2 separate regions of the Homo sapiens genome follow, and region 1 is linked to region 2. A link means that fine-mapping ties the variant in region 2 to the expression of a gene that starts in the linked region. Tissue or cell type: visceral fat. Region 2 holds a variant in brackets; the other region holds the start of a gene. All regions are shown on one strand. Distances are between the middles of the regions. Region 1 holds the start of LINC02147 (long intergenic non-protein coding RNA 2147). Region 2 overlaps LINC02147 (long intergenic non-protein coding RNA 2147).

The links. PIP is the estimated chance that this variant, and not a neighbour inherited with it, causes the effect. A credible set is the group of variants that fine-mapping cannot tell apart.
Region 1: LINC02147 starts here. The variant in region 2 is the best candidate, but not a certain one, in a credible set for the expression of LINC02147 in visceral fat (GTEx, PIP 0.72).

The regions. Positions count from the first base shown.
Region 1 is chr5:117,725,380-117,735,550 of GRCh38, reverse strand. LINC02147 (long intergenic non-protein coding RNA 2147) reads right to left here and starts at 5,190. Exons shown (of 3, transcript NR_104997.1): 1 at 5,143-5,190.
Region 2 is chr5:117,753,655-117,763,825 of GRCh38, reverse strand. All of the region lies in intron 1 of LINC02147 (long intergenic non-protein coding RNA 2147), which reads right to left. Among named protein-coding and RNA genes, the nearest start is that of LINC02147, 28 kb to the right of the region's middle. The variant G/T (reference allele first, on the strand shown) is at 4,876.

The sequences.
Region 1 (10,171 bases), 28 kb after region 2:
CTATTAGTCTGCTGTGGACTGGAAACCTCACCAATAACAAACAGTTGATGAACACATTTTCTATGTCATATGTATTATATACTGTATTCCTACAATAAAGAACATGTTAGAAAATCATAAGGAAGAAAAATAAATGTACAGAACTACACTTTATTCATTGATGCTGTAAGTTTATGTCATCTGTTTACAAGATAAATAATCTGTTTGAAATGGTGGCCACTGCAGCTGCAAACCTCAATCTATGATACATATCAAGTAATTGAACTTTTTATTGTAATGTCACGACTTTTCTCTGCTTCTTGGGAGCACTCCCAGAAACACTAGTGACACTTTATGTGGGTCCCATGGTGTTATTTAAAGTATTACAGTAAACACAATGAAAAATATGCAAGAACTTGGAGAGATCAATTTTACTGAGACACACAATTAACTGGAGAGAAGAACTGCACAAAAAGAGATAATTATTGTCACATGGCATGTAAGCAGATCCTTGCAATACTTGAGATCACCACAATAGCAACAGGAGATAGCTATGAAATTATTACAGTAGTATGGTGTGTACTGCAGTAAATTGCACTCAGTCATGATTTAATACCGCATCTTTATATTTCTTTACATTTCTCTCAACTGCAAATAGCACCATGTCTGTAGGTGTTTGTATAAGTTTTGATAAATTTTAAATTTTCATAATAGACTTGTGTATTTTTATGATAGTAAATGCTAAAATAAACTAGTATCTACATCTATTTTATGAATTGACAGCACAACTAAGTTTTCCTTTGTTTTTTTTTTTTTTTTTTTGAATCTCTAGGCTACAGGATTCATCTGTGAGTTTTTTTCAAATTTTCACAAATTTCCAAATAATTTTTCAATATGTTTATTGCAAAATATCAAGGTAAAAGTGTACAAACACAGTACAAACTCATGTTATTCAAGGATCAACGGTAATGTCAGTTCTAACACAAAAAGTTGTATTTATGTAATAAATATTTATTATACAGACACCTCTTTAAGTACATGGGTTTAACAGTGAAGGAGATAATCTCTGTTTGCAATTTAATAGTTTAACATTTAACTACAGAGATGTGAATATGTTGTCATATTGCAAAGTAATAAATGCTCTCATAGGAGTGAAAGCAGGGCTTAGGGAGGTAAGTGACAATCACTGGACTTTGCCTTAGACAATCATGAAAACCTTTCTTGAAGTTTCAGCTGAGATCTGAACTAAACCCTTGAGTTTGGCAGCACGGAGAGTAGCTTTGGAGGGAACAGGCAGGAAAAGATCTAGACAGAACAATGTGTTATCTTGTAGTAGGAATATAAAAATTAAACAATGTCCTGATATTCTGGGAATTACCAGGATAAAAACTAGATTAAAGAGACTCAAAACTGTCATTTTCACATGGGAACAGAGATAAACATATACGTGACGTTCTCCCATGGGTATAACCGTCATGTAGGTGAGGTTTGTAGTGAGTTGAGGTCAAGTTTCATTTCTTAGATTATATTTAAACTGCCACCTGAAGCAACAACAACAGAGGTCAACAGAGAATATTAGTCAGGTGTGGTAGTGCACACCTGTAGTCTTAGCTATTTGAGAGGCTGAGGTGGGAGGATTGCTTGAGCCCAGAAATTTGAGGTTAAAGTGAACTATGATCACACCACTGCACTACAGACTGGATGATGCAGTGAGACCCTGTCTCTCTCTTTTTTTTTTTTTTTTTTTTTTTTTTTTTGAGATGGAGTCTTACTCTGTCGCCAGGCTAGAGTGCAGTGGCATGATCTTGGCTCAGTGCAACCTCCCCCTCCCAGATTCAAGCAATTCCCCTGCCTTAGTCTCCTGAGAGTAGCTGGGACTACAGACATGTGCCACCATGCCCAGCTAATTTTTTGTATTTGAATAGAGACAGGTTTTCACCATGTTGGGCAGTATGATCTCCATCTCCTGACCTGGTGATCTGCCTGCCTCAGCCTCCCAAAGGGCTGGGATTACAGGCGTGAGCCACTACACCCGACAATCTCTGTCTCTTAAAAAAAAATTGGAGCTCAACTCTTCAACAAGGACATAAAAACATAAAATCTTTATAACAGACAGGGAAATAACTTTCCTGCAGACTCAAAAATTTGGCAAGTGAAATAGGGCTTACATTAAAAATAATGGAGGCCAATGAACACAAACGTCAATTTATTATATTCTTTCTTCTTTATCACATGTAAATACTTATTTCTTAAATCAACATCTATTTCCTGCAAGATACTTGGCTAGGCAAAAGATTTTTAATGAGCAAAATGACATCAATTTTCCAAAGAAACAGATGAAGAAAACAATATTTTCCATGACACGTCACAACTTCTGCAACAAAAGAGGACACAGGAGATAGATGAGAACAAGGACTCAAGTGGCCCACTTGAGACAGAGAGGAGTTTTGAAGCTACTGAGAAGAGTTTTACACTAACTTTCTTAAATAATGCTTAGGAATTGCCAGTGGGTCAGCTGGGCTGTGAACTTCAGGCCAGGGAAGGTCACAGGCAAACACATACAGTAGGGGCTCCAACCCCTGGGCCACAGACGGGTATCAGTCTGAGGCCTGTTGAGAACTGGGCTTCACATCAGGAGGTGAGCGGCTAGCAAGTGGACAAAGCTTCATCTATATTTACAGCCACTCTCCATCACTGGCATTACCTCCTGAGCTCTAACTCCTGTCAGATCAGCAGCAGCACTGGATTCTATTAAGAGCAAATACAAACCCTATTTGAAGTGCACATGTGAGGGAGCTAGGTTGCGAGCTCCTTATGAGAATCTAGTGCCTGATGATCTGTCACTATCTCCCATCACCCCCGGATGTGACCATCTGATTGCAGGAAAACAAGTTCAGGGCTCCCACTGATTCTACTTCACGGTGAATTGCATAATTATTTCACTATATATTACAATGTAATAGAAATAAAGTGCTCAACAAATGTAATGCACTTGAATCATCCTGAAACAATTTCCCCCCACCCCAGTCTATGGAAAAATTGTCTTCTACAAACCCAGTCACTGGTGCCAAAAAGGTTGGGGACCACTGACACAGAGGCATGAGAAGGCAGATTGTCCAGGATCACTCAAGTGTAGTGGAAGAATTTAAACAGAGTAATCCAGAGGGCAAATAGAAGTTCAGGTTCAGGCCCCTAATGGTCCACCGCAGAATACAGTGACAGCTTACTAAGGCAGTGACAACTGGGACGGAAAGGAGAGAATACATGAGATGTTTAGAAGGTAGAATTAACACAAATTGTTGAAATTGAGCAATGGTGAAAATAAACCCTCACCCGTAATTCAGGACTCGCTCATATTAACTATGAATACATTCATGAAGAAAATTGAATAATGTATTTGAAATAACTGTGCCATCAGGACATATGGCTACTGTAAACCAAAAATTACCTCTGACTTAAATGGCCACTAATTATGTGGCACAACTTCTTTTTCAAGAACTGAGAAGGGATGAAAACACACACGCACACACACACACACACACACAAGCAAATTACAATGAAAAGAGGTACATGTTGGGGTGGAAGGAACAGTAAAATCCTTTGAACCATTCAAATACCTACATGATTTTATAAACCACCTTCCCGTATACTATTTGGTGAATTATCATTAAAAATCTCAAGCAAATCAGGCAGGAACATCATGAAAAAGTCAAATGATTGCAGGTAAAGAAAATTGTTTTAAATAAATGTAGCTTCACTAAACAAAATCTGCTTAATAATTTTGGCTGAAAGCTGCAGATAATATGTAGCAATAGGAGCAGGGAACTTAACATCTCTGCCAAGCAAAAAGAAACAATTCAGCAAGCAACAGTGAACTGATATGCACTAAATAAACAACCAGGCAGAAACACCGCTGTGAGAAAGAGCTTTTTATATAGCTAAGCCAAGCTGGATGGCTTAGAGTTGGAGAAAGAAGTGCTAAATATGTAACAGCCTGGGGCCTCGCTGGACCCAAATAATAGTTATTTCTGAGTAGGTCAAGCAAAAGTCAATAAAAAGGAAAGCAGGAATGGCTGTTGGGTTCATAATAGGACAATAATGCCCTTCTGGGAAAAATGTGAGTTTCAAATAGCCAGAATCGAATACTTAAGTTTCAAATGCTTTATCATAGACCACCAGTTCTGGAAATATCAGTAGAATAGCTAGAAAATAGGTAAATTCTGCCAACCAGAATAATCCCTAATACAGATTCCCTAAGCCAGTGTTTTTAACATGAGTAGAAGAATCACCTGCAATGGAATTACAAGGAAGCTTATTTAGTGGAAATTCCTGGATACCAGCTCAGACTTACCACATCAGAATTTCTAAGGAAGAGGCCTGGTAATTTAATTTTTAATTAAATTTTCAAAAGATTCTTCTGTCTTCTAACACCAGAGAACTTTTATTTTTGCGTATTTTGCATTTTGCTTTGCTTTCAAATGCCATCGTTCACAGATTAGATTCGTCAGAGAGAGAAAGGGAGATAGAAAGGGAGGGAGGGAGATCCGATAGATATATAGCCAATTTCTGGCCCAATTTTTCTTTTGCAGCAAGCAAAGGCTAAAGTAACACTCTGTAACACTTTATAACACTTTATAACACTCTATAAAGCACTAATTAGAAAACAGGTTATTCTGAGATAAAAGAACGTACAGCGAACAATTACTTTATAATCAAGTGTCAGATTGTATGGAGCAGAACATGCCCACTGTATTAGTCTGTTCTCACACTGCTACAAAGATACTACCTGAGACTGGGCAATTTATAAAGAAAAGAGGTGTATTTGTCCGTTTTCACGCTGCTGATAAAGACATAACCCAGACTAGGCACTTTACAAAGGAAAGAAGTTTAATGGAGAACTCACAGTTCCACGTGGCTTAGGAAGCTTCACAATCATGGCAGAAGGCAAAGAGGAGCAAGTCACATCTTACGTGGACAGCGGCCAGAAAGAAAAAAAGAGCTTGTGCAGGCAAACTCCTGTTTATAAAGCCATCAGATTTTGTGAGCTTAGGAACAGCATAGGAAAGACCCTCCCACCGCGTCCCTCCCACAACACGTGGGAATTCAAGATGAGATTTCGGTGGGGACACAGCCAAACCACATCAAGAGGTTTAATTGACTCACAGTTCCGCATGGCTGGGAGGCTTCAGGAAACTTCCAATCATGGCAGAAGGCTAAGGGGAAGCAAGTCACATCTTAAATAGTGGCAGGAGAGAGACAGAGTGAAGAAGGAAGAGCCACTTTTAAAACCATCAGTTCTCCTGAGAACTCACTATCAAGAGAACAGCATAGGGGAACCACCCCCAGGATCCAATCACCTCCCATCAGGTTCCTTCCTTGATACATGGGGATTACAGTTCAAGATGAAAGCCTAACCATATCACCCACAAAGGTGAATCAGAAGCTGGACTTCTCTGTGATTTCTTCCATTCTTCAGTATTCCTGAATCCCTTCCAGTAAAGTTTCTATACAACAATCTATCAGTAAGGCATTATCATTTAACAAACCTTTTAAAAATTATACAGGAAAACATTTGTTGAAGAATTTGGGATAGTATCATCTATAAAAATTTACTTAAGATGATTTTTTTTCCTTTGCTGGTAGGAGAGAAAGCAAGATAATAAATGCACTTAGTAGAATATCATAGTAAACAAATTGTTTAAAGATATATACTTTACTCTCCCGTAAGACTATGCATCTCTTGTACAGACATCCTGGTGAGAAAGTGGAACCCTAAATGGAACACTGAGCTTCAGGCATTTTTATTGGACCTCCGAGGAAAGGTACAGGCAAGTGGGGTCAGGTGTCTGGGATGATTGCAGTTGTCAGTTAAACTCTTGATATAGTTTGGCTGTGTCCCCACCGAAATCTCATCTTGAATTCCCACATGTTGTGGGAGGGACCCGGTGGGAGGTAACTGAATCATGGCGGCAGGTCTTTCTTGTGCTGTTCTCATGATAGTAAGTCTCACAAGATCTGATGGTTTTAAAAACAGAATTTATAAACTTGTGAATATATGGGTATGATGCAAACCCTAAAATCATAAATTCATCTAATAATTGTGATATCTATCTCTATAAGGCATGTATTGAGGGTGAAATTGAACCTGAAGATTTGTTAAATGAAACTATGAAATAAGTTTGTAAAGACATATGCATACTTCACCAACCTGCTCAAATTTAGATCGGCAAACCCTTTCCTCTTGATGGGAATGAATGAATGAAATCTGAATTATGGTCTGCTATTTCTTCTACCAAAAGCCATAAGCTTGAGCCAATAGGTGTGTAATAATTTTCAATGCTATTATTAACAGTGTTTATTTAGTTAATGCTCCTGATGAAATAACAATTTTTGATCTAGATTCTTTAGAGAGTGTTATTTAGAAATTAAGTTTCAAAATTCAAAAATTATTTTAAAAAAGAGTAAACTAGCAGACTCATCTCTTAAATATTAGAGTCACTTCTACATCCCAAACTCTAACCACCCAGCCAAATTTATTACTAATGGGTAGGTACAGAGGGTGTTTAAGAAAAAGATATAGATTACAGCTTTGCTTTATTCTATTTGAAAATTACTCAGCTTTGTGCCCAGCTGAACTCACTAAATTTCAGCTGTACCCAACATAGAATGTGAGGTGGATTCAGTTCTGTCCCACAGCTGACCAGCAACTACAGAAAGATTGAAGCCACTGACCTCAGGGTATGACTATAACCTCGGGGACAATAAGTAAGCAGGTAGTCCCCAGGTTGGGGCCAGACTTAAATGCTCCCATCAGAACTTCCTTGAAGAGCATAAATGTCCTATTAGTATATTTTATTTCTTTGAGATTTGTTATAGTGAAACTTTAGTAGCAAAAACATTCAAAAATATTTATGACTTAGAAAATACTTTGACTCACATTTTCCTCACCAATTTGGTTGTAATTTGGATAAAATATGAAACAGTCCCTTTTTACTTCTAAAGAAAAAAGAATGGAGAATTTTCCACAAAGAGTTACCAGTGATAACCACCTTTGTGAATTAACTATAAAAAAGAAATACCAACATTATGAGTCCTGGGCAGACTATTCATCCTTCTTTTCCATCACTTTATCTCTCTAAGAAAAAAAACACAGTTACAGGTTAACTAGGAAAATCTATAATTTAAAAAAACCTTTTTTTTTTTTTTTTGTAGAGCTTTGTATCAAAGAGCAATTGCATTCCACCTATGTACCACAGTAATACTGGTCAACATCTGTTTTTTCCACATATCTCCTAAAAAGTTATGTGTAGTCTTCCTAAAAATTGTCTAACAAGCAGTACTGAAATAGTTGTTAAAGTATTATAACAAATAATGCTCCTTTTCTCTTCCAGGTACTCAAAAATCCTGATCCATAGGAAAAATCCACATCCAAATGCAAGGTTTGCTCAAGTTCATTTTCATTATAATGCAGGCACTTTATATCACTTCAGGGCTTCTACCAGGAGAAATATTAGAAATATTAAAATATTTATTTTTGTTCGTCTTCCTTTTTTGGTAACAGACCTCAGTACATTTGCAGAATGTCTTGTAGACCCAGAACATGCTGGGTGAAAACAACTTTTGCATATTTTTGCATGGCTAGTAAGAAGCCATTCTTTAAAAGCATATCACCTGTCAGCATTACTTTCCAGAAAATATTTTCAGTTCTGTGCAGCTGCATTTTACTTCCTCCATCCTTGGTATAAGTGTTCAACCAAGTGCATGCTTTGCACCTTCAAATGTATTTTTCCAGTTGCATCCTTGTTTTTATTTTTACATTCCAGGATGTAGCAATGTCAACTTCGGAGGATTTGGCTGATTCAGTAGTTGTAGTGTTTTTAGCTATTCCTGTCCACATTTTCACGTAGTCTCTAATGGAATTCTGCAGCATTCCAATTCAGCTCTTAAAAAGATCACCCTAATTTGAAGCAGATGTTAGGTTCACACCTGTGCCACAATGGTAGCTGAAACAGAGCTTATATTTTATACACATTTATGGAAACCATTTGGTCATTTGGCTTTATAACTAAGAAGATGTGTAGGATTTTTAAAAGTCGATTATTTTCATATATGGAATATGAAAAGTATTATTCCTCAAGAAATTTAAGACCATCAAATATAGGCTTATATATACATGCTTATTAGCCACGTAAGTTAGCCTATCCATTTAATCATCAAATAGGCATCATCGAGCACTCTTTAGGCACTGCAGGTACAAACTCTTCCATAAATGTTCTTATAGTTTTTCTTCAGTAGTTTTATAACTTTTATAGAAGCAACTTGATTTTTGCTAATAAACACATGAAACCACAGTATATATAAAATTAACAAAAGTGATACTATATTAGTATGAATTTGTTTTATAAATATAAACTTATGAAACTTTATAAAATTAATAACAATGACACAATCACTATTTTTTTGGTTTTGTATTATAAAGTCCCAATTCAGTCTCTATTGTATTTACTATAATTCAGTATCTATCATATATTTTAGTTGCATAATATTTTTTAAATCCAATTCATTCAGTAATTATTTGCAAAGGTTTGTAGTAATTTAACTACTCCTCATGCCAATTCAGTATACCCCTCATGTACACACAGATGGAAAGAAAAGTTTTATTCACATATGCACAGAAATGAGTTAATCTGGTAGAATGTGCTAAAGATTCTGTGGTATTCAATACATTAAAAATATAACACATTTGATCATATACAGTCCTGTGTCACTTAAGTACAGGGATACATTCTGAGGAATGCTTCATTAGGCCATTTCAGTGTTATCTGAACATTATAGAGTGTACTTAGACAAATCTAGATGATACAGCCTACTAGACACCTAGGGTATATGATATTGTCATCTATTGCTCCTTGGGTTATGAACATGTATATTATGTTACTGTACTAAATACTATAGGAAATTGTAACACAATAATAAATATTTGTGTATCTATACATAGAAAAGTAAAAATATTAAAATAGGTTAAAAGTGGTACATCTATAATTCACTTATTATGAATAGAGCTTGCAGGACTAGGAGCTGCTCTGGGTGAGTCAATGAATGAGTAGTGAGTGAATGTGAAGACCTGGGACATTATGTACACTCCTGTGGACTTTAGAAGCACTGCACACTTAGGCTACACCAGATTCATTTAAAAAACTCTTTTTTTCAATAATATATTAACCTTAGCTCCTTATTACTTTTTTTACTTTATAAACTTATTTTTAACTCTTTGACTCTTTTGGAAGAACACTTAAAGTAAGACAAATACATTGTACAGCTGTATAAAATACTTTTTCTTCATATTCTATAAACTTTTTTCTATTTAGCTGTTTTAGTATATGATTTTTGTTTAGTTTCTTACATATCACTTCATGCACATACAACTTTTTTCTTCAGGATCTTGTCCCCATTAAATGCTATCTTCCTTGGTAGCTTCCTTGTTGGTTTTTATTTTTGTTTTCTTTTCTCCGAGCCCAGTGACTTTGCTTGTTTTATTTTTGTTTTCTTTGCTCCGAGCCCAGTGGCTTGAACATATGTTCAAGCTGCTACTTTTCCTTCAGCATCTCTTTATTTTTGTTTTTATTTGTAAGTTTCCTGTGCAGAAAAACTGTGGTAAAAATGTACCTAAGTGCATTTTCTTTCTCTCCAAGATCTTAGTGTTTCTGACCAGAAACTTTTATTAATATATAATATCTTTGTTCTTGCCAACTTTTCTGATTTATAGTCTATTTTGTCTGATTTTGCATAGCCACCTCTGCTCTCTTTTGGTCATTATTTTTATGACCCAGCAATCCCATTACTGGATATATACCCAAAGGATTATAAATAATTCTACTATAAAGACACATGTACACGTATGTTTATTGCAGCACTCTTCACAATAGCAAAGACTTGGAACCAACCCAAATGCCCATCAATGTTAGACTAGTTAAAGAAAATGTGGCACACATACACCATGGAATACTATGCAGTCATTAAAAAGGATGAGTTCATGTCCTTTGCAGGGACATGGATGAACCATCATTCTCAGCAAACTAACACAAGAACAGAAAACCAAACACCACATGTTCTCACCCATAAGTGGGAATTGAGCAGTGAGAACACATGGACACAGAGAGGGGAACATCACACACTGTGGCCTGTCGGGGGA
Region 2 (10,171 bases):
ACACTGCAATCGCAATGTAACCATCAGACTATTTCTCTGAACAGACTAGTTTTCTAAGAAGAGCACCTGTATTCTTCCTGCTGAAGTCGTGACTACTTTCCATCTGGCAGTACCATGTAATTCCAGGCTACGGGCTCTCAACAGTTCTAATTCCAGACTTTCTCACCTTATGTACTCTAATGAATATATTCCATATTGTAAGTGAAAGTTACAATATCATGTTAAGAATACTTAATAAATACAAACAACACTTAGCAAAATAAACTCACAAGGCAAAAAAATGACTACTTGCCAATGAAAGACTATGTGAGTGAAATTTGCGGATGAGGAAATGAAGATGAAAACTTGTAGCTATTTATTTTAGTGGGGTTGGCGTGAGTGAGAATTATTTGGTGAAAGAATGAAACATTTCATGTCCAAGACTTGGCCTGGTCTAAGTCCAAAGAATTAGAAGATGGCCTTCAGTTCTTAGCATTTAAAATTCCAGAAGTGGATGGAGATATTATGTGAGGCTAAACACAAAGTAATGGGATCAGAAAAAACAAAACGAAACAAAATCCAAATAAACATGTTTAAGTACCACTTGCTTGTGGTTATACAGTGTCTGATAACATGAGATAAGATTTGTAACTGTGTGTATTTTGCTACCTTTTGTTGAAGTATATACAGAAAAGTATACAGAATATAATTTTATTGCCTAATACATTTCACAAACTAAGCACCTTCAAAAACCAATGTCTAGATCTAGGAAGGAAACATTACTCACACTCCCATTAAGAAACAGAAACATACCTGCACATCCCCAAGCTAGAAGTACTCCTAGTTAGTGCCTAACCCATCACTAACTCTAAAGAGGGCAAGCCCTATCTGATTTTGTAATTAAAATGAATGCTGCTATTCATTCATATCATGAAGGTTTGCATAGCAATCACTTTTAGAGTGATCTAAACAATAATAAAACAAGCTAATCATGTGAAGGCTGTATAAAAACGTTTCAGTCACATGACCAAGCTTCAGAAGAGACTCTAGGGTTTGCGCATGTTCAGGAAATTAAGGACAAAGAAAACAGACCCGGGTGAATTAAGGGGATGAGATACGAGAGAAACAGAGATGTGTCTAGAGGTCAGGCCACCTAGCACTTTATGGGCCAAGCAAAGACTTCCTGAGATTCATGTTAAGAACTCTGCCTCTGGGCTCATTCTATTATTTTGAGCGGGGTGGTAATGGAGGGGTTTTTTTATGATATTGTCTCTTAAACTTTTTTTCTTAACATATCAATATATTTGGCATACAGAGGAAATTGAAAGCTGATGAAATCGCTATGTTATTTTAAAGGTTCCTTTTTTCTCTTCCTTTGCCTATGACTTTTTAAAAGATAGGACTTATTGCATTCTCTTTTATCTATTCTCATTTTTATTTATTTGGGTTTATTTTGTAGATTTAGAGAAACAGAGGTAGTGTTCTCAAGCATCATGCCCCCCTCTTACTATGAAGGTTCCAGTTATTTTTTGAATGAGAAATAAATATATGAATCAAAACCATCTAAATCATTATTGCCTCCCTGTGAATTTTTCAATGGTTAATTTCAAAATAAGTTATATAATTGAACATATTTTTCTAAATGCAGACACACCTCTTACTGCTGAAAAAGCCAAAAAAAAAAAAAAAAAAAAAAGAATTTTCTAGCCAACAAATGTCAAAGTATGCTGAAACAGAAGTTGAGGTTAACTAGGTTATTTCTTGGGCAAATTTCTACATAAAAACTGAATTAAGGAGAGGAAAAGTGTTGCGATAAGAAAAATGGATGTTGACAATTGGCATGAAAACACACAAAGCCACTGCAGGGGAGAAGCAGAAGCTGTGTCAAATTTACTTTCATGTTTGTATTTGTTTACATAAATCCAAGGAAAGAGATAGCGCATGTTTCACTAGAACTCTCACCTTTGTGGTCTGCACAATAATTAACTAGTGTGAAAAGTAGGAAAAATATGTGTGTATGTAATCAATAAAAACTATATTACTGCGGTGGGAGTTTATAGGAGACAAAAAAATGTGAAGCTCAACCTATCCATTACTTTCTAAACTTAACAACTCTAATAAGCAACAGGAGAAAGGTAGAGAGTTGGACAGTTTGATTTGCTTATGTTGTAACAATAAAATATAACAGCATTGAGTTTTTACTCTATAAAATATTACAAATATATGCCTGACCACATTACTGCATCAGATTTCTCTTAACCAATACATGAGCTCTTCCCAGTCTCTGATCATCTTTCTATACCCAATGCTAGCCTAGATTTAGAGAGAAAGACAGGAGCTGAATGAAATGTCAAGGAGGCCAAGGCAGCTAGCAATGTCAGGGCAGAGTACAAGAGAGGAGAGGGCCTTACAGAGAGAGCTCTGGAGAGCAACAGAGTACTCCCCCAGGTCTTCCGTTGAGAACTGGTCAGCAGGATTGCTCAGCAAATTGGTTGTTTCTAAACCACTCTCTTAACCACTGTGAGGTTAACCCACAGAAATACAGAGCAGAGCTAAGGTCTTTCATCTGCATTTAGATACTCTAGTCCCTCTTTTTATTTCCCGATTAAGTAAGCATTATTATGAATTACTTTTCACCAGTTCAGATTTTAAACTTGCTATCTTTTAGAAGAAACCTCCAGCACCCGGTGTTCATCAGAGGGTCACTGGAACCCAGAAAATTAGACCTTCTCTTTTTCATCAGTGCTGCACAATGAATAAAATAGAAATAGAGTATATAGGCAGACCCATCCACACTAGACTAGCCTTTTTTGTCATCTAGTAAAACTCTGTGTCCTCAAATATATTAAAAATAAGCATAGAATTGCATAGCTACATCATCAGTTTATTAATAAATTTAAAAAAACAAATCATTTACTTTAAATTTTCACTATTGATATCTCTTGTAAATGAAGAGTAAAACCAGACGGTTTTTTTTTTTATTTTAAGGACAATTATATCGAATAATCAGAGAGTCAAAAAAGATTTCATAGAAAGAACAACAAACAGATTTGAAAAGACTGGCTTATAGTAAAAGTTTTGCCAAATTCTATCATCGGAGTCATAATTTCTCTTGTTTGAAATTCCTCACTTGTAAAAAATACGCGTGCAAGAATAATCTAAAAGATTCAGCATTATAATCTCATGAGTTTTAAGCTATCTGAAACAATTTTCAAGAGACAAATCTAACATGTAGTCTCAGAGTTTTCAGTATTTACTTTCACCAGATACCTTATTTTAAAAATGTTCTTATTTCTTGACCTTTTCCTTCAGATAAATTGTATTAGATTAACACAAATCATTTTATTGAAAAATGTCTACAACTACTCCAAACTTAGACATTGATCTAAAGGAAAAATGAATTTGGAATCATTTAAGATATTTTACAAACTTACCATTTAGTTTTGTCTTTTTCTCGACTTCTAAATTATCTGACTTTCTGGAAACCACATCTGTCAGTTTTATAAACATAGGAAGGAAGACTTTTATTATGATTAGGCAGTTACGCCTTCCCCATGAGGTAATCTCAAAAAACATCTACTCTCATGAAAGTAAAAGTTCAAAGAGATCTGGAAAATTTTCTGATAAACATCCTCTGTATTTCATGTTTTAATCATGATGCAGCTTTTATGCTTGGTAATTATTCAGACAATTCTAATGACAGAATCACGGGTTTGTATAATACAGAGATAAATAAAAGTTTTCACAGATTAGCCCATGAACCACCCCCCCAACAGGAAAACATTCAGATTTGTTCCACCCTATGAAAATGCATGCAGGCATCATCAACTCTTCCAGCCTACGCAAGCCATGAATATTCCAGCAAGGAGATGTAAAGCCCTCCTCTCCCCCAGTAGCCCATTTACCACACAATCACATATGTGTGAATAATAATATAATCTCTTAAACTCTATCCCATCAATATCTTTAAACACTTTGAATCTAAGATTAGAAAGTCCTGAGATTTTCACTTACAGTGAAAATGTCTTCTTACTAAATAACACAAATCCATCTACTTTTAGAGGATTAAAAAAAAAAGTTTGCTGTTTTTTTAAGAGATTTCTACTATATTCTTTTAAAATTTCTATTTTCTTCTTTCATTATTTACCTGTTTCTTCCCTAAAATTCCTTCCCATTGACAATTTCTTTCTTAAAATATCAACGTAAGAACGTACACGTAGAGTAAGAGGGTGAACCAATCCATGTCTGGGGGCCCAAACTCTGTTCATTAATTTATATCTGAGGGCAAACTTCCCTCAGGCCAAAGGCATTAACCTTGGGTGAGACCTTAACACCTTTCTACTCCCTTCACCTGGCATGCCTTCTTTTGCCACCACTGCTGGTAGTGAGGCCAACAGGGCTCAATTTTGGACCTGAAGTTGGAAGGATCCCCTGCTAACTTTTTGAAGCGTGAGGCAGATATAATATCAACAATCTGTGGGACACTATTGAAGAATGCAATATTGTAAATGACAATTAAACACTCAACTTAGCCTGCAAATATCCATCTAGCTAATAGTGGTACTTAAAGGTGAGAACATAAGACATTTAAATAGGCTTTACCTCTACTGAGTAATAACATGAATTTCAAGGTCTGGCAGGCTTGGTTTCAAATAAGGATTCTTTCTGGTTTTCTGACTTCAGGCAAGACACTAAATATCTATAAGTCTTGGCTCCTAATTTATGAAATGAGTGTAACAACTGTATCCTCTTCACTGGGAGGGATAAATGAGATAATGTATGTTGAACATATAATATTTAGCATAACTTCTCAGAAAATGCTAGTTATTAGTATCACTATTTATAGGTACATGAAGTTCAGTTCATGAAGTCAGATAGTGTGTCCCCAGTAGTAAA[G/T]AGGACACAGAGCATTACACATAGTATGTGCTTCATAGGTATGTGCTGAATTTAAATGACTGTATTCTAATCACTGTTTCTTAAATTATTGTCATGAAAATTCTATTTCATATTCAAAATAAACTTACAAATCAAACTCTGATTTCCAATTTATGAATACACTGCGTAGACTATGGTATTTTCATGTTTCCTTAATATTCTGATAGGACATCAACATTACAAAATACTATCTATGTATGCGTATGTCCCTTCAACCACACACTTGTTTTGTTACAAGATCAATCAGTGGTATGGAGAATAAAAGTTTGGTGTTTCACATGAAGAACATATAATAACATTAAAAAGCAAGAAATAAAGAATGGGTAGAAAGAAATACTTCTCTGCATAAAGCTGAATTAGTGCCTGTAACTAGTTCCCAAAATAAATTATTGAAGCAAATAGTTTACTGTGATTCCAAAAAGCATTAGGCTTAATGAGGCAAAAGTTTGAAAGCGGCTTGCAAATTTACACCTATGGATTTTTCAAAGGAAAATAAGATTTGCCTAAGAAAGTGCTTATTTTGGCAGGCAGAGAAAACAGTGGTGAAAAATTATGGGTTTGTCTCAAAAGCTAAGTTGATTTTGCCTTTTTAAACTGGCTTCAATTAGTTCCATATTTTAAATTTGGTACTGGAAACAAGCTGAGACATTGGTGGACAGAAATAGAAATGGCCACTGCTCTGTAAGCAAAGAACCAGAAATTTCGAATAAATTCTGAGATGATATAAATCTCAGAATTCTCAAATGAATAAATTCTCACCTATTTTGCAAAGAAAGAATTTAGAAAACAGCAGGCAAATAAACCAATATTTATATATCCTACACAAAGGAACATTCAAATGAGGTCAGATTCAGCCCACTGCTTTCTACAGGACAACGAGCTCCACAGTGATGGTTGGTAACTTGCCACTGGCAAGAATCACTACATTTTGGAGTGCTTAACACAAAGTGTTGGGCATCATATTATGTATTTTGCATACATGATTATATTAATTTTTACAAACTTAAGAGGCAACTGTTTGCCCTTTTTTATTTCTTACCAGATGAGGAAGCTAAAATTTAAAGTCAAATTATCTAATGCCATACAGCTACTAGAGAAAAGCAAAAATAAAACTAAGTAATCTGACCTCAAAGACTATTCATTTTATCACTCTTAAGAACCTACAGAGCAATCATCAAAGAAAGATATCTTTTGGTATACTATTATTAACAATTTCCTTTTACATTATTTTTAGAGTATGAATCCTATTGTCCATGACAAATTAATATAAAAACTTTCTAAATATATATGAGTTTAACATATAATGATCACAAAAAATCTTATCTGTGTACCTAAATATAAGTTGTTTTGTAATGTGGACCTTAATCACAGGAGCCCGCTGCCAATTTCCTTGCCAGTACATTATTTCATGTTCTTCAGGCCTGATAGAATATTAAGGGTCAAAGAAATGTCTGAGAGTGTCAACCTTCTGATTTTTAGCCCTGGTGACCTATTTGTTTGTTATTATTATTAAACTTTCAGAAGAAAAATGAAATTTCTTTTTGCCAATGTTGTCTTCTCCCTCATGATATTGTGAAGTCATCTACCCAAGGGAATTAATGGGAAATTAGCTTTAATAACTACAATAGAATCTGCCTTTCACTAGGCACTCACTGTGTATCAGGGACTTTATGTATATTATCTCATATACTCATAGTAACTTTACATATTTTAATCTCTCATTTGGTAAATATGGAAATATTTCAAGTTAAGTGATTTGCTTAAATACATACATCCAGGGTGTCTGATTTAAAAAATAAAACCAGATCTGTGGGACTTCAAAATCGAGTGTCTACCATTATCCCAAATTACTTCTTACATACCAATTAGAGTTGATTTTCTGCTTCTAAACTGACATTATGTGTATTTAGACAAATGGAAATAACAAGGTTCATTTAAACACAAGAACCAACAGAACATATTAAAATCAAAAGTATGAGCTTCACAAAGCCCAAATATTATTACCACCATCATTTTAGTGCTAAATAAAATGTTAAACTTTGGTATTAATATTAATAAAATATTCAGCATGATTTATATAGTGTTCAAGACTGTGAGTTCACATTGAGCTTTTCTATTACTCCAGCAACAACCATAAAGCAGGTAACAACCACCATTTTACAATAAAGTCTAAAAATAATTAATAATTCTTGTATGACTACGCCAAATTGGTTAAGGAGCAGAGCCCAAACATAAACTTAAGTATTATCACTTCAGATTCACTGGTTGAAATAATCATGCTTTGTGATTCTTCCGTAAAATACATTAGTAGACTTTATGCAACATTAGTGAACAATTTCAGTGTGAGCTTTAGATCCAATAGATCTTGGCTCTAACTTTGGTTGTGGTATTTTATAGAAAAATTAATGTGGGAAAATCATTTAATCTTTCTGGGACTGTTTCCTCATCTGTAAATGGCAAGTTAATAACAACTATGAAATAGGGTTGTTTTGAGGAGTAATCACAAAAGAACCCTAGAATGGTTTTTGACAATACATAAATTTTTCACCACTAGTTTCTCTATTCCAAAATTTATAACAGACATTTTCTGGTGGAAAACAAAACAAAAGTGTTTTCTATAATTTAGATTACTATTAGGTACAAGATACAAACAAAATAAAAGTAAACTTTTAATGCACTAGTTTGTTCCTTAACTCTTACAATCTTTTCACTTTTCATTTATTTTCAATTTTCCTTCTGGTTCTCATTAATTTGGATTAATTATAATAATTTCTGTTCTCATTATTACCATTAGAAACACAACACGTTGTGTCAAAGTCAGTAATCTTTATTCTTTAGATTTGACCAAGAGTCACGATCCTGGATTTAGAAGGCAGCATAACCGTCTTCAGATGGTGCTCATGCCACAGCTTCCATGGCTTCCATATTTACTCCTTTGTCTTGATAAGAGTGGAAAATTGATTTTTATTATAGAGCTTAATAGATGTAACATTGAAGTTACATGGAAAGTCAATTTATGTAGTAACTAAGGGTTATTTAATCTCGGCCTTTTGGCACATCATTCAGTAGGAAGAGGCCTACAGCCCCAGATTATCCTGACTTGACTCCTTGTATTTTCACTAGTCCTTGTTCCATATCCACCAGCTGATTATGGCATGCTCAGAAACCACAATTTAGACATGATAATTTTCTATGTAAAAATCTTCAGGTCTCCCCATTTCCATTAGAAGAAAAATGGTCCATATTCTTTAGCACAAGTAAAGTCTCTTATGATCTGACCCTCAAGTACTCTCTTATTCCATCACTGTCAAATACACAACTTATGTGGAGGCCAGATTTAAATGCTGCTGTTACCAGAGCTTGCCTAGGATTTATTTATAATCCCATCTGATAAGCCCCTTCCTCCTTTCATATTAAAATTCTCTTTAATTTTCCTGGCAAAGATTAACTGTTAATTCCTTCAAGGAAAGTCCACTGATAATTTTTCCCTTCTCCTAATACCCGCAATACTTCATTTATAATGTTTATCTCATACATTTACCTCACACATTGGATGATATGTGTGAGAAGCATTATACGCTGTTCTAAGTTATGAGTTCCTTGGAAGCTTAACTTTGCTTTATCTATTTCTATGGCTACCTCAATGCCAAATATAGTAATTATTTAATAGCTGTTAAAGCATTATCCAGTTATCTAGGCTATAAAAAAGAAAAAAACCTGGGAGAGAAAGATAGCTACAATTACCTCCTCAGAAAAGCAAATACCAGTGTCCATTATAGAGGGGTAAGAAAAAAAACAAGATTTTGTTCATTATGGTCTTTAGATTCATTCGGGCATGTGAACACAAATGCTTTTTCCAGCAGTGCATGATTAACCCAGAAACCAGAGCGGCATCCTGGCAGCAAAGGCGTTCCGTTTTTTATGACCCACTTTTCTATCTTGTCATGCATCCTTCATTATGTTCAACATTCTTGTCAGCAAAGATCATCAATGCATGGGCTGCAGTTGAAGTTGAAGCCCATCCTATATTTTTTTCACCTCTCCATCTTACTCAAAAATAATTCAGTGGAAGGGGCATCACTTATACCTTTGAGGTTACAGATGTATCACTACTGAAACAAATGCTAAGGACAAAGATACAGAGGCTAGCACAGCAAGTCACTGCTATTGCACCATCTTGAAGGAAAATCTGGGGTTTCTAGGTAACAATGTGTATGATTTGCCTTTCAGTTTTTTGTTTGTTCATTTTTTTACCTCCACATGGTAGTTTAAATTGTCGATTTCTCAAAAGCGTTTGAGATATTTGTAGTTAAAAAAAAATCATTTATAGTGGACAATGGTGAGGGTGGCAAAAGGAAGCAGAATGTATACCAGGAGATTAACAAACCGCATTTCTCTGTATTTAGCTAATCTGAACACTTAGACTGTAAAATATAGGATTTTCCTTAGATTATTTCTAAAGTCTAGATTTAAACAAATTAAATTCTCTAATGATGGTTTCTATATCTTTATCACAACACATTATTGCTCAACTGGGAAGAAATAAAAAAATAAAATGATAGCTTCAGAAATGTCTACTAATTATAACGGACTATTATAAGAGCTTTTTGTATATTTACTCATGTAAACTTCACAACAACCCTATTAGGTAAGTTCATTGTTATTCCATTTCACAGATTCAAAAACTGAAGTACAGTGTAATTTATCCAGGTTCACATTTGGGCAAGGGCTAGGATACAAAACGTGACTCCATAGTAGAAAGTGCTCCAAAGCTTTGCTACTGAAAGTGTGGCTCACAGTCTGGAAGCATCAGCATCAAAGGGGAGCTTGTTAGCAATGAAGCTTCTCGGTTTACATATACTACAGTTTCTTTATCCACTCATTGGTTGATGGGCACCTAGGTTGGTTCCATATCTTTGCAATTATGAATCGCACTGCTATAAACATGCGTGTGCATGTCTTTTTCATGTAAGGACTTCTTTTCCTTTGGGTGGATACCCAGTAATGAGATTGCTGGATTCAATGGTAGTTCTACTTTTAGTTCTTTAAGGATTCTACATACTGTTTTCCATAGTGGTTGTGCTAGTTTACATTCCCACTAGCAGTGCAGAAGTGTTCCCTTTTCCCAACATCCCTGCCAACATCTATTGGTTTTTGACTATTTAATTATACTACTCAGCCATAAAAAGGAATGAAATAATGTCTTTTGCAGCAACTTAGATGGAGCTAGAGTCCATTATTCTAAGTGAACTCAGAA